Linked DNA regions of Homo sapiens: region 2 is linked to region 1. Evidence: fine-mapped expression QTL. A gene starts in region 1. The other region holds a variant in brackets. All regions are shown on one strand. Distances are between the middles of the regions. Region 1 holds the start of IRF6 (interferon regulatory factor 6). Region 2 overlaps UTP25 (UTP25 small subunit processome component).

The links.
Region 2: its variant is fine-mapped to the expression of IRF6 in whole blood (INTERVAL, PIP above 0.99).

What each region holds. Positions count from the first base shown.
Region 1 is chr1:209,802,057-209,810,430 of GRCh38, forward strand. IRF6 (interferon regulatory factor 6) reads right to left here and starts at 4,086. Exons shown (of 9, transcript NM_006147.4): 1 at 3,891-4,086. RefSeq lists a silencer at 4,008-4,351.
Region 2 is chr1:209,842,894-209,851,267 of GRCh38, forward strand. UTP25 (UTP25 small subunit processome component) reads left to right here. Exons shown (of 12, transcript NM_014388.7): 11 at 558-803; 12 at 8,311-8,374. Among named protein-coding and RNA genes, the nearest start is that of UTP25, 19 kb to the left of the region's middle. The variant A/T (reference allele first, on the strand shown) is at 3,817.

The sequences.
Region 1 (8,374 bases):
AGGAGGGGTCTCAGCTGGCTATCCATACAACAATCCAGTGTCTGGGAGAAGGCTTGGGAACACTGGCGACAAAGGCTGAGAACACGTCTCCACTACTGAGTCTGGTAAAGCTCAGAAGCCCTAGAATAACCAAATACTAAAGTACTAAGAGTACTTAGAGTACTAAAAGCAGTCATGAGACAAGCTTTGCATGGCTAGGACAGCCTCCTCCCTTGGGTCTGTTTATCTCCCAGTGAAGGCTGGAGTGAACCAATTGGTTGCAGGAGCCAGCATGGGTAAAGTCTGCAATTGATTCTTGTAAAAATACATGGGCATAGCAGATAACATTCAAGAGCAGCTGGCACTCACAGCAGAAAACAAAAGCCTTCCCAGATTGGGTGACTGATAAAAAAACAGTCACTGGAGAATTGTTTGTCTGAGATGTTGTGTTTGGATTTTTTGGTGTTCTTATTTTGTTTTTACTTAAGATGAGAATGAGATGCCTGGAAAAAGAACACTCATTCAACAAATATTTGTTCATCAGCTACTGTGTGCCAAGCACGGTGTTAGTTACTAAACACTGACGCTCCATGTTCCTTCTTGAGAAACTCCACACTGGAACTTCTCAAGCCCCACAATGGCCTGAGAAGGAGGGGAAGATAAATAGGTCACCTTCATACCCAGAAAGATCCCTACCTGGACCACAGTTCTGAAACCAAACAACCTTACAGCAAAGCAGCTAAATATGGGAATAAACTGTGCCAGGTGGGAAAGAAAAGAGGTTAAAAGGGTCAGCTGAAGGCTCCTACTCAGAAGAGCTTAGCTGACGGGGTGGCCCATAACACCACTTCTCTCCCCAGCCAGACTCCCAACAAATGTGAAAAACCCAAACCCAACTCAGCGTCTGGCACTTTAAGAGCAAGGCAAGACCTGCTCTCACCTGAGCTTTCTGACCCAATTACCAAGTCCTGCAACTGAAACCTTCCCCCTGGGAGCATAGTGGGTAGGTCAGGTTGGCACGCAGTGTTCAAGTACCCCCATGTAGTTGGCCTTGAATTACGGTGTTTTGTAGGGCAGCATGTGAAACCATCAAACCATGGAGTGCATTATAAGCCTTATAAGGAGGAGGGGATGCATATTCTCTCAACGGCTAGTTCTACCTTCTGCTCCCCAGTCCTATCACTACTGAAAGGGGGATGGAGCAAGAGAAGGAAAAAGAGGATAGGGAAATAGGCACCAAACCAGTCAATCTAGTAAAGAGCTTTTGAGAATTTCCATTGCAATACTGGTAAGTGCTGTGTTTGGGCCTGTCAGACATTAAAATCCAACTCTTGACTGATAGTGGACTGGAAGAAAAGTCCAAAAGGACTTATTGTAGTTGATCCAAATCCCACCATGCAAAAATTAAGGCAATCAGGCCAAGACCAGGAGCTGCACCTGATGATGGGAAAGGAGAAGCAGCCACCCACAGAAATCAGTGATTAAGATCTAGAGCCCTGGGTTCTCAGTGTTCTCCTAAGATGGGACTACACAAGAGCAGCCTTGCCTCAGCCCCATGGAAGGAGCCCCAGCCTGCCCTCCTCCAAGCCCATGCCCTGCCTCTCTCACTGTAAACCCTCTCCACCTTCTGAAAGTCAGCCAAGATCTCCCCCACTCACCACCCAGTAACTACAAGTCTAAAAACAGGCAGAGATGGAACAATTGAAAACCCAAATGGCCAAGACAGAAACATTCATTACGTCACAACCACAGGCTGCAATATTAAGTAGCCATTAACAACAGGTGTCAGAATTTGTATTATACTCAAGGAAATGTTTACAATATGAAGTTGTGGGGGCAGGGGGAAACAGCATACAACTTGACTGTGTAGCACTATCTCCATCTTGTAACACAGCATATACTTGCATACATGTGCACATACACACAGAACTGAAAAAAGGAAATAAATACAACAATGCAACAAAATATTTGTAATGGTTATCTAGTGATGCAACTATGGGTGCTTTTTACATTCTCCCATATACATTATATATGATTCATATTTTCCTACAATGATATGTTTCAATTTATAATTTAAAAAACTACAAGTAATTTTTTCTTAACCTCAGGACAATAAGACATTTCTTATGAAGGATGGTAACAACAATCCTTTGTATCTGTGTAGGCTTTACAATTTTTACATGAACCTTTACCTAACATGTCTGATTTCATCCTCATAAACCTGAATGTGATATTACTATCCCCATTTTACATCTGGGCTGAGGTGCTTTATTTCCTAAGTCACAGTGTTCTGTACCAAACCCTGCCACTGCACCTTGTCTTCCATGTCCCTCTCATCTTCTGCGCACCAAGAAAGTAAACTAAAAACATCAACAAAGATCCCAGCAGCATAGAGGGCCAATAAAGTGATTGAGGTGGAGACTGCATAACATCCACTCTCAAACACACCTAAATCAGAGTTCTCTTTCTAAACACTCTTGCCACCCAAATCCCAACGCCTGAAGAACCACCTTAGCCTAGTTGAACTCATCTTGGTATCTCTAGCTGCCATCACAGCAAAATGTAAGGCCTGTGTCTCTAACAGGTACTTAAACAGCCAAAGGACAATGATGCTAACCTATCTATTCCCCTCACAGTGAGCATAGAGGAGGGACACTTTCAGCCTCCTCCGAGCATAACTGTCCTCTCCCATACCCCTATTCTAGGGAGCAGGTCCTCCATAAACACCCTCATTGCCACCTCCATAGCTCCTCCCCAGACTAGTTTCCAGGGGCACTGCCACACAAAAGCCGAGATTTGGCCGTCAGTGGTTTTGCTCAGGTTAAAACACACGCCATTTCTCGCAGACAATTCTTAGCAGTCCCAGCTCTTCCCTTTCTCCTGAAAGAAATGAAATGCCATCGTCTAAGTTCCGTTCCTCAGGCTTCCCTGTTTAGCCCTGCTTAGGGGTAAACTGCAGGCCTCTAGTCAAAATGCCCACACCCTTCCCTTCTGCTGGATGGAAGCTGGGGGATGGCGAATGGGAGTTACAAGGTATTGAGTGCCACTGTCATACATCATACACACGTCTCATCCTAAACCACACTCCTGGGTCAACACCAGCTTTCACCAATCCCACCCAAGCGCCTTCCTCTCTCTATCCATCTCTTTTCCCTGACTTCCACTCTTGACATCCACCAAGAGAACAGGTTGGAACAGGATGACCCCTTTACCACAAAGCAGGCTCCCTGTAAAGAGTGACACCTCAGGCCTCCTTTCCAAGTCAGGCCTGGGAGACTTTCCCCATTCTCCACACCACCCTCCAGCCCCTTCGGGCAAAGAGGGCCCACCCCCAGAGCAACCACACCCCAGCGCCACCCTCCCCAGCACCTAGCTCCGCTCCTTGGAAATCCAAGGTTGTCTCCCAGGCCCAGGGCGAAGGGCCTAACTGTGCCAAACAGACTCAGGGAGGGAAGACAAACCGCCAATGCTCCAAAGCTCCTGGCCACCCTCACTCCAGTTTCCCAAAACGCCCACTAGGATCAAGGACCTGCGGACCTGGGAAGTCCCCTCTCTGGGACACAGGGGCCAGCCGCAAGTTGGTAAGACTGAAGGGGGCGCGGTGCTTTAGCTCTACCGGATAGTGGGGTTGTTGACGGCCGAGAGCAGTGCCCTCCGCTTCGGCGGTGGGGGTAGGGAGAGTAGACACAAGTGTAGATTCGAGAGGGGCCTAGCGCTACAGAACTGAGGCCGCCCCAAAGCTATCTGGAAAAGGGCGACAGGCACCCAGCCCCAGTGGGTACCCACCCCAAACACACAGATGCCCCCAAGCAAGTTCTCTCACCCCCTACAAACTCCGGGGATGGGTCCTACCCCACCCACGGGGGAGCCTCTCCTCCCTCAAGCTGGTCCCCAGAAGTTGGCGTACCCACCTTTGCTCAATCTGTCCACCAGAAGCGGACGTCCCTCCGAACCAAGTCCGCAGCGAAGATCACCCGTCGCTACCACGCTCCTCGACGTCTTAGCCAAGGGGCGCCTGGCTCTACCCAAGTAGGGACTGCAGGTTCCTCTCCCCGTCCCGCACCAGCCCTTACCTGCCCAGCCCAGGTGCGCCGAGCTCACGTCAGCGCCTCGCCCCAGGACGCCGCAGCCTTCGCATCCGCCCGGCCACGCCTCCCAGGTGTGGCCACGCCCCCCGGCGTTCGGGATTGGCGAGTTGCAAGAAATATGACACTCCGCGTTTCTGGGCTGCCCGGCCCAGCGGCGTCCGTCCAGCGTCCCACCCTACTCCTCCGCTTCTAACTCCGGCTAAGAAAGTCCCAGATTCAGGCCTAGCCTTACGGCTCAGGGCTGGTGGTCCTGGGAACTGGAAGCGACTGGGAGTTCAGATCTAAGTCGAGAGGGTGCCTCCCTCCTTCACGGCCCATAATTACCCTGCAGTATGCAGACAGTTAAGCACAAATAAGGGTTTTGAGATTCTGGGTTGGCCCTACTACTCGTGGGCCTGTGTAAGTGGAGTTGCACATGAAGAAGAGAACCAGGACACTTGGTCCTGTCTGGGAGAAGCCATAGGCTTTCAGGACTAGAATTCTACCTTTACTCTGCCTCTTACCCGTGTGACCCTGGGTAAGTTACTTAGCTTCTTGGCTTCTTGGTTTCAGTTTCCTCATCTCTTCAATGAGAATAATAATTCCTTCCTTCTTTTTTGTTGTTGTTTGCTTTTTTCTCTTTCTTTTTTCTTCCTTTTTTTTTTTTTTTTTTTTTGGAGATGGGGTCTTGCTATTAAGTTACACAGTCTGGTCTGCAACACCTGGGCTCAAGGGATCCGCCTCAGCCTCGCAAAGTGCTGGGATTACAGGCACTGGCACCCAGTTCAATTCCTTTTTTTTTTTTTTTTTTTTTTTTTAGGCAGGGTCTGGCTCTGTCATCCAGGCTAGAATGCAGTGGCACAATCATAGCTCAACCTCCTGGGCTCAAGCAATTATCCCACCTCACCCTCCCAAGTAACTGGAAATATAGGCATGGGTCACCATGCCCGGCTAATTTTTTTTTTTTTTTTTTAGAGACAGGGTCTGACTATGTTGCCCAGACTGGAGTTCCTGCTTCCTCTGATCACTATCGTGTAATGAGTAAAAGCATAGCCTCTGGAGCCAACTATTGGGGTTTAGACCCCAACTCCATCAGTTACTACAGACTTGGGAAAGTTTCTTAAGCTTTTTAGGCCCTGGTGTCTTATCTGTAGAAAGAGGTTAGTAATAGTACCTACCTCAGGGGTATTGTGGGAATTCAATAACTACATGTAAACTGCTTGCAACAATATTTAGCACTTATCAAGTGCTTTATATGTACTTGCAATTATTATTGGCATAAAGATTAAAAATACCATATAGACAGTGCGTCAGAGAACAAGAAGGCATTCCTTGTTATTACCTGAAATTCAAGTCCTGCATGTACCCTAACAGGTGCTTGATGAGATTGCCCTCACCTTCCTCATCTATCTAGAGGACCGGTTTGCAGGAGGCTGTGCAACAGTAAATGAGACTTTTAAAAATCCCCCACCCTCAACCACTGAGCTGTCGTAGGTGAAATGGGGCATGCGCAGGTCACTTAGGTTTTGGTGTTTAAAGTAATGAGTGAGAAACTGTGGAGGAGTGGTACAATGAGTTGAACTGTCACCCACATACAAAAAAATTTGTATTTGTATTTTGAAGTCCTGACCACCCCCACTGCAACCACAGCCAGATGTCAGAATATGACCTTATTGGGAGACAGGATCCTTATGGAGGTAATCAAGTTAAAACGTGGTTATTAGGGTGAGCCTGAATCCAATATGAATGGTGTCCTTATAAAAGGAGGAGATTTGGACACAGAGGCAGATACCCACAGAGGGAAGGTGATATGAAGAGACATAAAGAGAAGACAGCTAGCTGCAACCCAAGGAGAGATACCTGGAATAGAGCTCTTTTTTTTTTTTTTTTTTTCACATCCCTCAGACCCTTGATTTTAGACTTTTAAACTCCAGAACTATGAAACAAAAAATTTCTGTTGTTCAAGCCACCCACTCTGAGGTACATTGTTATGGTAGCCCTAGCATACTCATACAAGTGTGTTGAAGAGCCCCAGATTGATAATAATGTAGGCATGATTCCAAGTCCCAATTTAGCTTTGGAATGTAGCCAGCAAAGGCCTGGGAAGGCAGCAAGGCCCCAAGGCCTGACTCAGCCAGCCTCTGTCTCAACCACTGCCCTGTGGCCACTCTTCCCTTCACTGGGGGAAGGGCAAGCTCATCAGCACAGCTAGCTGTTTACTGCTGATGAGCTCACTAGACAAACAGCATCTTCCATCTGGCCCAGGGCTGGGCTCTGGGGACCAAACAAGCTCCACTGCAGGTGTATGAGAGGGATGAGGGGTAAGGCCATTGGGAGAGTGTCATTTGAGGGGAGTCAAAACCCCAGTGGCATACAAGTATGAGCCCACACACAGGCACTCACTTTTGCACCAGCTGAAATTCCCATGACTAAGGGGATGTCTTAAGGACCTTCTTTAGAAGACATATATTTTGGAATCAGAAAACTCAAGCTGGGAGGGTTCTTCTGGACTATCTAGATCAAGACTAAAACTGACTTAGCCAGTTTTTACCCACACAGTATTTTAAATATCAGGAGGTATCACATAAACATCAAAATTCTCAGCATCTCTTAAAGAGTCAAGTGCCCTGGATGCTCTACCAGCAGTTCTACCTGGCAACAGTTGCCCATTTAGAGGGAGTCTACACGTTACAGCCAATACAAACTCACTCTATTGAGCTCACTAATTTACTTTAATTGCCTGACCCTGTAGGCATCTGATTGCAACTTCTAGTCTAAATTCTCCCTTTTCATAGATGAGAAAACTGCGGCCCAGCGAGGTCAAGTGATTTACTCAAGGTCACATGGCATATTAGCCACAAACCAAGACTAGAACACAAACCCGGGGCTCTATCCACTTGGACCCCTGCTCAGCTCCGCAGCCAAAGTCTATTCTGACCTGTTCTGCACTGGCTGTTAACGATTTAAAAAAAAAAATCGCCAGGTGCAATCGCTCACACCTGTAATCCCAGCACTTTGAGAGGCTGAGGCGGGCAGATCACCTGAGGTCAGGAGCTGGAGACCGGACCGACCAATATGGTCAACTCTACTAAAAATACAAAATTAGCCAGGCTTGGTGGCGCATGCCTGTAATCCCAGCTACTCGGGAGGCTGAGGCAGGAGAATTGCCTGAACCCAGGAAGTGGAGGTTGCGGTGAGCCGAGATTGCACAATTGCACTCCAGCCTGAGCAACAAGAGGGAAACTCCATCTCAAAAAAAAAAAAAAAAAAAATCACCCATGGATCTAGGTACTGTTGATATTGTTGATATTGCCATAAACAAAACCAAGTCCCTACTCTCATGTCACTCAACTGAAGAATTAATGAAAGGGGGTAAAGCAGGTGGAATTAAGGTAGAGATCAGGAGGAACTCCCCGGCTCTGCAGGCAACAAGCCCTGACAATAGGCCACCCTGATGTCTTCTATTCTGATACACGCCTCATCTGCTTGATCTGGGGAATAAGAACATCTTGTGAGTCTTTCCACAAGCTCTTGAGGAATCAGTTCTTCTGTATTCTCAAAAGAGCCTCTTCAGGATTCAGTCATTCCCAACATGCCCTGGGCCTGCAATGCTCCCATCATTTTGCCCTCCATTGATAATCAGGTGCGGCATTGCTGACTCACTAGTGAGTCTGAGTTTCAGGTAGTGGGACGTACATTTCAGCACGGGGGCCCTGATTCACAGCCACAGGGAATGAGGGAATTCCCCTCTCCTGTTCCCAGTCAGCTCTCATTTGGTAGGAAAGAGTTTCTTTTTCCACCCAGAGACTTTAAACTCTACAATATCAGACATGTGACAATAAAACCATGAACCCAAATCCCACTCTCTTCTTGGCAGAGCAGAAAGCGTGGCAACTGGGACTCCTCCCAAAGGCTCCATACAGTGGAGAGTTTAGTGTTACTGGAGTTGGTGATAGCAAAGAAGCTGTGCACCTTTGGTGGAGTTGCTAAAGAGTCAGGTAGGGACATTGCACTAAACAATCCAATTCTGTGCTTTCAAAGGAAATCAGACTCCAACCTTCCTTCTGGAAGGCATTCTGGAGCCCATCAGGTCTACCCTCACTTTTCTCTTGGCCCTGGCTTATCTCTGTCTCCATCCAAGTATCTTAAAGCATCAGGGCCACAGGTGATCCTAACACATTGCCTAAGCCACAGCCTAAACTGAATGCACTCTGGTTGTTGCACTCTATAATGGCCTCCAAATTCTAGAATCACCAAGATGGCAGGAAGCATAAAAGAATCTCACTTTCCAATCCAAGCAATGGCACAGACTTTGGCTTTGGACTCTA
Region 2 (8,374 bases), 41 kb after region 1:
ACTAGTTAGTAGCAGGGTTATTACTATAAATCAGGACTCTTTCACTCTTGACTGTGGCATTTTAAAATTATACAGCTTTATGCTACAAAGTGTCTCATGTCAGCAAGTTAATTGTAAGCCCCTCAGGGAAAGAACTATTTTTCTAATTGTATAATTTCCCCCTTTTTCTTCATTGTGTTTAGTTAGGGGACCCCAAAGAAGCTTAGTGAGGCTTAGTATATGGTAGATGTTCAGTGATTATTTGTTGACTGTTGGACTGAGTGACTGAGTGACTGACTGACTGACTGAATAGTGTGGTGTGTACTTCCTAGAGTAATTCTCTGGGATATAATGGTATTACATCTGTTTTTTACAATGAATAGTGTTGACACTTATTTTTTTAGTGTGCTTATCAAGTTTTATCCTTACATAATCTCTTTGAGAGGAGGTAAATCATATTGGCCTCTGGGGAGGTAATCTTTTAACACGAGATTGTAATTTGCTCAGGGTCACACAGTTAAGAGACACCATAAGCTTAGCTCTAGACATTAATTTTGCCCTTTGCCATTCCAAATCAGGTTTAACTTTTTTGTGAACAAGATTTTGCCACAGTATCGTGATGCAGTCATGTCTCACACGCTCATCTATATCCCCTCCTACTTTGACTTCGTGCGTCTTCGAAATTACTTCAAGAAGGAGGAATTGAATTTTACCCACATCTGCGAGTACACGCAGAAGTCTGGTGTCTCCAGGGCCAGACACTTCTTCCTTCAAGGAGAGAAACAGTTTCTACTTTTCACAGAGCGCTTCCATTTCTACAAAAGGTAAAGTGGTGCCAGGTTTCAAGCCTCCTCTCTGAAGGGGAGGTGCAGGACAAATCATGGCCTGCTCTGAATGCATGGCAGGCTTCGTGGTGTTGAGATCATCCCTCACTCTCGCACTCTTACAAAGTAGCCAGAGAGTTTTTGGTTTGGACAGACTCTTCTTGGTTGGTTAGTTGGTTTTCTCCCAAAATGGGCATTGCTGAAGAAGGATGTAGAAACCAAAGCATACCCTGTCTATAGACCTGGCATGTAGCTGTGGTTATACACTGCAAGAAGGACATTACAGGACAACTCAAATGAATACAAGGAAGGGGAGGGACCTTCCCTGTATTCACTTGAGTTGTCCCTGTCTAGACTTTTTCCCTCTGTTTGCCCTCAGTGCACAGACAAAAGCATTGAGAACTGTGTTTTCTGGGGAGATGGAGGCTGAGTACAGTGTCAGTTTCCAGACAGTTGCGGTGTTCCTGAGGTATGCACAGATACTCCCTACCAAGGAGAACTAGGACCGTGGGCTCCTTGACATTTGCAGGAGGTAAAAGGGTAAGGGCTTCAAGTTGAATGTTGAAGGGTTTCAGCGTTTGCTTAGATTTCCTACCAGGTGACTTTGACAAAATAAGTTGATTGGTCTTCATGTTATTTTTTTAAAAACTCAGGCCAGGTGCAGTGGCTCACACCTGTAATCCCAGCACTTTGGGAGGCCAAGGCAGGCGAATCACCTGTGGTCAGGAGTTCAAGACCATCCCGGCTAACATGGTGAAACCCCGTTTCTACTAAAAATATAAAAAATTAGTTGAGCGTGGTGGTGTGTGCCTATAATCCCAGCTACTCGGGAGGCTGAGGCAGGAGAATAGCTTGAACCCGGGAGGCAGAGGTTGCAGTTAGCTGAGATCGTGCCATTGCACTCCAGCTTGGGCAACAAGAGCGAAACTCCATCTCAAAAAAAAAAAAAAAAAAAAAAACCAACTCTAATTAGAGGGTTAGTAATACTGAGCCTTCTATTACTGTTTGGGATAGTGGCGGCCCTTCTGGCCCTAGAGCTCATGTATTTTATTGTTTTGCTAAGTCTCTCTCTGTTGATAAATAGAAAAAGCTTTTTTATTTTTTAGATTTTTATTTTCAATTTTCATGGTTGCATAATATGTAAAAGGCTTTTTTTAACCCTTGCCTGTAGAGTTATGTAAATTACATTCTGTTACCTCATCCTGATTTCACAATAATGTCCAGTGGATTTAAGTTCTGACTTTACTGTTTTATTAACTCACAATGGGTGCATTTTCTCAGAGAATCCTAAACAGATACGCCAGAAATCTCCCAAGCTTTGGAGCACATTAGATGATGCACTTTGGCATTGCATTACCTTTTAGTTTATGCTAAAACGATTAGGATGGTGCTCCCCAGATAACGTCCTTGTTCCCAGGATGGGGAGGGAGGCGTCCCAGCAGCTTGCCTAGGCATAGCAAAGCTGGCATGGCATGACCTCTTAGAGAGTTGAGGATTGATTAAATTTGTGTTTCCCAGGCTCCATTCTTGGCTACCCAGAGAAGGCTGCTTGGCCAAAGAGTGTTAATGAATGCCTGCTTGTTGCCCTCATTATTTGCTCTGTTCCAGTAAGTTGTCGTTTCCATTCATGTTGGAAAGTATTTGGGGAAGTTGCACTCATCAGGTCTTAAAAGCTCTTAGCTTTCTATCATCTTGACAAATGAAAGCAAGCCCTTTAAGTGAAGTGGATGGATTGGAAAACTTCCCAGTGTGATTGTCTATGGCAACTGTGAATTAAGCTGGGATGGGAATTAAGCTCTTTAATATCTCAGCAGCTTTTCAAGGACAGGGCATGGAGCCCTTTGTAAGCAGGACAGTCTCCTGTATTACACTGTCTATTTACCAAGCCATGTTGCCCTCAAAGTCACGATAAGGACAAATCTCAGCATATGCCATTTGCTTTATGCCCTGGGCCAGGTTAATTGGTGTTTCTTTTGTAGAAGATGAATGAAAATAATGTGCTTTAGAGTTCTGCAACAGCTAATTATCTCAAGGTTTCCAGCTATAGAATTTTTTGCTCGAGAGATCACCAAGGTGATGATGGATGTTTTGGTGTGCAGTGCCTTTGTGATTTTTTTTTTTTTAATTTGACCTTAGAATAAGTACTTTTTTTTTCTTTTTCTTTTTCTTTTTTTTTTTTTAAGACAGTCTCACTTTGTTGCTCAGGCTGGAGTGCAGTGGTGTGATCTCGGCCCGCTGCAGCGTCTGCCTCTTGGGTTCAAGCAATTCTCGTGACTCAGCCTCCTGAGTAGCTGGGATTACAGAATTGCATCACCACGCCTGGCTGATTTTTGTATTTTTAGTAGACGAGGTTTTGCCATGTTGGCCAGGCTGGTCTTGAACTCCTGGCCTCATGTGATCTGCGCACTTCAGCCTCCCAAGAAGTGTTGGGGTTACAGGCATGAGCCACCGTGCCCGGCCAGAAAATGTACATGTATTTTATATTGTAGTATCTGACTCTGTTTTTATATTCTCTATGACAGCTGGCAATGTTAGGAAGATTAGAATTCATTTTTGAGTTAGCAAAAATTTTTTAACCTGAAGATTTGTTTTATGTGGGGAAGATTAAACTAGCAGAATCTTAGAATTGGATGAACATTTGGTCATGATTGCCCTCCCAGTGATGGGTCACAGCTCTTTTCCAGTGCGTTATCAGTGGGTTTCCACAGCAGGGAGGATCTCAACCAGGAGGCAAGTCAGAAACTGGAGGTGGGATTTGTGGAGTTTGGAAAGGCTGCTGGGAATTTCTGATTACTCCCTTCCCCTACAGGAGAATCCCAGTTCTAGAAGTAGTAGACTTGGTCTTTATGGACCGTAGGAAGGAGCCAGTCTTTCAAGTTCATTGTGGTTGCCTCATTTGTCTTTAACAGTGGCTCGTGAAATAGACATGTGGAAGGTACTGTAAGGGTGATTAGGCTGTGTTTGTAGGAGTCACTGAAAACAAAGCATATATAAGGGAGGAGGAAGGCAGGGT[A/T]AGGGGTGCTCAAGCTATGGAGACTTGCCACTAACTGCCCCTTGGAAGAGGCCCTGGCCATGTTCTCTGTTGCCAGGAGATACTCAGTCTCTATTGTGGTTGCATTGGGACTGAGACAGATTTTCATGTGTGTGTGTTTAATATAACACTTAACAGTTTTATTGTTTTGTTTTTCCTGATTGTGAGGGTATTTCACAGTTATTGTAGAGATATTGGAAATTTTAGGTTAAAAATCTCACTGCCCTGATATAAATACTCTTTTTGGTAATTTTTTTCCATCTTTTTTATGTGAAAAATGTGTGCACATGCACACGTGCACACACACACGTGTTTTTTTAAAAAACAATACTAAAATTAGGATCTTTTTTTGTTTTAAGGATTTTTTTTTCCTTTGTCTTAGATGTTTTATGTGCTCATTTAAAAAAATTCAAAGACTAACATTTTGGCCTGTATATTTGTATATTGTGGATTTTTGTGTATATTTTTAAGTTACTATATATAGCTCTACGACATCCTCTCTTCCCCCAGGTTTTTATTTGAAAAGATTTCATTGTGAAAGAAAATTGTTAAGAGACTAACAATAAACATCTGTTTATTTATAAATGCTTTTACCCCAAATTCCACCAGCTGTTCTCATTTTATCACATTTGCACATACCCATCTTCTCTCTATCCCCACTCACATCTCTTATTTTTTCTTCCTGAACCATTTGAAAGTAAAGTAGCGTGAGTCTTCATTGACACTTCACCCCTAAATATTTTAGCATGTAGCTCCTAAAAACAAAAACATTCTTTTATCTAACCATAGCACCATTATCATGCTACCTGATGTTACTACAGTAATATCATCTGATATCTAGTCTATATTCAGATTTTGCTAGTTGTCACCAAAATGACCATTATAGCTCTTTCCCCTCCGGCCAAAAAGGATTCAGTAAGGATCATATATAGCATTTGGTTAACTTACTGCTTTTGTTTCTTTAATCTAGTTTAGTTCTCAATTGGGGAACAATTTTGCTCCCTCAGGGACATTTGGCAATATCTGGAGACATTTTTGGTTATCACAACTGGAGGATTATTCTGGTGGTTCCAGTGGGTTGAGACCAGTGATGCTGTGAAACACCTTCGTTCACAGGACAGCCCCCAACCACAAAGAATTATCTGTCTCAAAATGTCAGCAGTGTTAACACTGAGAAACCCTCATCCAGAATAACTCTCTTGCTTTTTTACTTTTTCATGACATCGACATCTTTTTGAAGAGTCCAATCTGGTTTCCTGCAGTATGTCTCACAGTCTGGATTTATCTAATTGTTCCCTTGTTATTTAGATCAGTGGTTCTCAAACTTTGCCGTACGTTAGAATAGAAGCTTTTAAAAATCCAAATGCCCAGGTCACATCCCAGTACCAATTAAATCGCAGTGTCTGGGATGGGGACCAAACCTAAGTATTAATAAAAAAAATAAAAAAACAACCAGCTAGGTGATTTCAATGTGCAGCAGTTTGGGGATGACTGATTTAGAATAAATATCTTTTGATAAGAATTCTACTTAGGGAATATTACGTACTTTCTACCTCATCTCATCAGAAGGCACGTAATGTCACTTTGTCTCATTCTTGGTGATGCCAAATCACTAAAATCACTTAGTGTGTGTATGTAATTAATAAGTAACGTGTGAGGTAAACATCACATTGTTTTTAATGGCTACATAGTATTACATTGGTTAATTAAGCTAGCTTCCTTTTAGTGGGCATATAGGGGTTTTTTTTCTGTTTTCTGCTGTTGTATATAATAATACGCAAAACATCCATATGCATATGTTTTGATGAAATACTTACCTAGTTATTTTCTTGGGATAGATTTTGAAAGGAAAACTCGTTAGCACAGAGGCTGTACACAGTTAAAAATGTGTCATGCGTTGCCACTTATTTGCTCCTTTGCATCTTTTCCATATCTTCTCCTGAATTCATAGACAAAGTAATTTATGCTCCATTCACCTATTTCTCCAAAGCTCCATAGACTGAATTATTGCTACTGATGTGATAGTCAAAATGATACCTCATTGTTTGGATGTCTTTTCTTGCTTTTTTGTGTCTTCTATAACTTTCAATGGAATGTAGAGGCTGAAGTAAATAATACTTATGTCCGGCCGCACCCCTTCCGTAGGCCACTGGTGTGGGTGCTATCAATCTAGTCAGGATTTGATTGTTACTGTAGATACCTTCCCAACACCACAGACCTCAAATTCCTCCAGCAGACAGTGGGCTTGGTGTAGGGTCTCGGGTGCTGGAGGGTTTTTCTCAGTGTCCTGATTGCTCAGCTGTCACTGAGGCCTTGACACGTGTGCCAGAGGAGGGTCTCACTCCACACTCAGACCCCTCCTCACAGGAGGCCTCTTGTTTCTCCTTGCAAGGCATGAAGTCGGGGGGAGGGGGTTCTCCTGGTCCAGCTCAATTTTTGGCAGGCCCTTTTTATTCCAAGCTTTGGGGGTGAGGTTTTCTCAGGGTTCCTGCCCCGCTACCTCCGTGGCAGCCAGACTCCACCTTTTATCTGTGAGGGATCTTTGTGGTGAAGTGTATACAGCTTCTTCCCTAATCGAACTCTGCTTGTATCAGTGCAGGAACTTGGGCTGAACAGGTTTCTTACCCCTTCCTCTGGGGCAGAATGCTTTTTACTGGGTACAAGTCTTGTGTGGGGGACAAATGGAAGGGTGGGGGTTTACTGCCCTTCCCTTAAGGGCAGACAACTTTTGCTTCTACTCACCCTCCCCCTCAAGTGGTTTGCCTTTGCCTGCCTGCGATTAGGGGTGGGGGACAGGGTGGCTCCTTTCTTCTCCCCCGTGTGCTTCACGTTTTTACCATGGGTTTCACGATAATGGGCCTGGGAAGTAGGTGGGCTTTCATGTCCCTACCACCAGTGGGGTCTCCCTCGGGTCTTCTGCTTTCTCCAGGGCTCCCAGTGCAGGCCTCTGGAACAAGCTCATGAGTGGATGTGAACTAAAGGAGCATCCAGGGATCCCTGGGGTCCTGAAGTCAGGCAAGCCTATTCTTGCCCTTTAAGAATGTGTTAGAAGTGTATCTATTTTCTTACTACCCACTTTTTTGGCAGAGGCCATCTTTCTCCTGTGCTCTGCCTAAGGTGCAGTAGTTCCTGTGTCCCGTTTTTCCTCAGAAGGGCTACTCTTTGGAACTCAGTCCATGGTGAGCTGAAGCTGGCTCACACTGGCTCATGAGACCTGGCTGCACATCTCTGGGTCAGCAGCATGACATTGGTAGCTTGAAACTGACAAATCCTTCAAATTAGCACCCTCCCTTTCTCCCACTGAGGACCAATTATTAAACATACACCAGCTCACCACCTAATTCAGGTTACCTGATTGCTTCATGATGGTAGCTCTTTGGGCTCAAGAAAAGGAACATTTTTGTATAATAGATTATCTGACTTTTTCTTATTGGTATAGGAGCAATATTCTCGAGTTTTATACATTCTAAGCAGAAGTAGAACTCAGTGTTGTTTTTGTTTTGAGAACTAGTGAGGTAGAACAGTTTATTCAAGTTCATTAGCCGTTAGAATTCCTTCTTTATGGAAAGGATGTTGAAAGGTGAACCACATAATAGATCACAGTCATGGTTTGGGAAAGGAAGGTCTCCAGAGAGATCAGGATGAGCTGTGAGGGAAAAAGACAAGGAAAACTTACCTTCTGTGAAAGAAATAAAATCCCCAAGGGAGTCTAACGTCTTCAGTGTATGAGAGAAACTTAACAGGAAAAATCAGAAGCTTGTCAACATATAAAATCTTTTGTTATGGAATCCCACAGGGGAACGGTTGACGTCAGCCTGACTGAACCATACTGCAAGTCAGTCCCTTGGGTGTACACCACCCCCCACCACAGGGCGGCACTGTGCAGCTGGGAAAGAGATGGAAATGCATACGCTGTTGAAACTAATTGCTTTCTCATGATGCCTAGTGGGTCCTTGGGCAGGGTTTTGTAAATGGATGAACTTGGGACGTCTGCCATGGAGTTAACATGTATCCAGAGTGGCAAGAAAAGACTAATGGGAGTGTATTTACAATCTGTACAACTTATTTTATGTACTGGGTCTGACCTTGTCTCCATTCTTTTTTGCCTGATTATAATAAGGCTAATGTTCCATTTTAAGTGCCTGCTTTTTAAGTTTTCTGTGACAGATTTTTAAATCCTGGTCTACTATTCTTTCCCATGATACCTCAGCCTACCCAGTGTAGGATCAAGAAATGTGTATTTATTTTATCATTTTCTTAAGCCAAATATTAGGAATTCGAATATGTTGTCATAAAAAGAATTCAAATATGTTGCCACCTCAAGTTAGAATAACTTTTGTTCTGTTACTTGTGCCACTGTTTTTCTCCATTAGCAGGAAGCAACAAGCATGAACTATGCCTCTGTACAACTCCTAGGTAGTTTTTCTAGAACTTGTTTCTCAAGTTGACATAGCTCTTTCTTTCCAATTCTGACAGGTATACAATAAAAGGCATCAGGAACCTGATTTTCTATGAACTGCCGACATATCCACACTTTTAC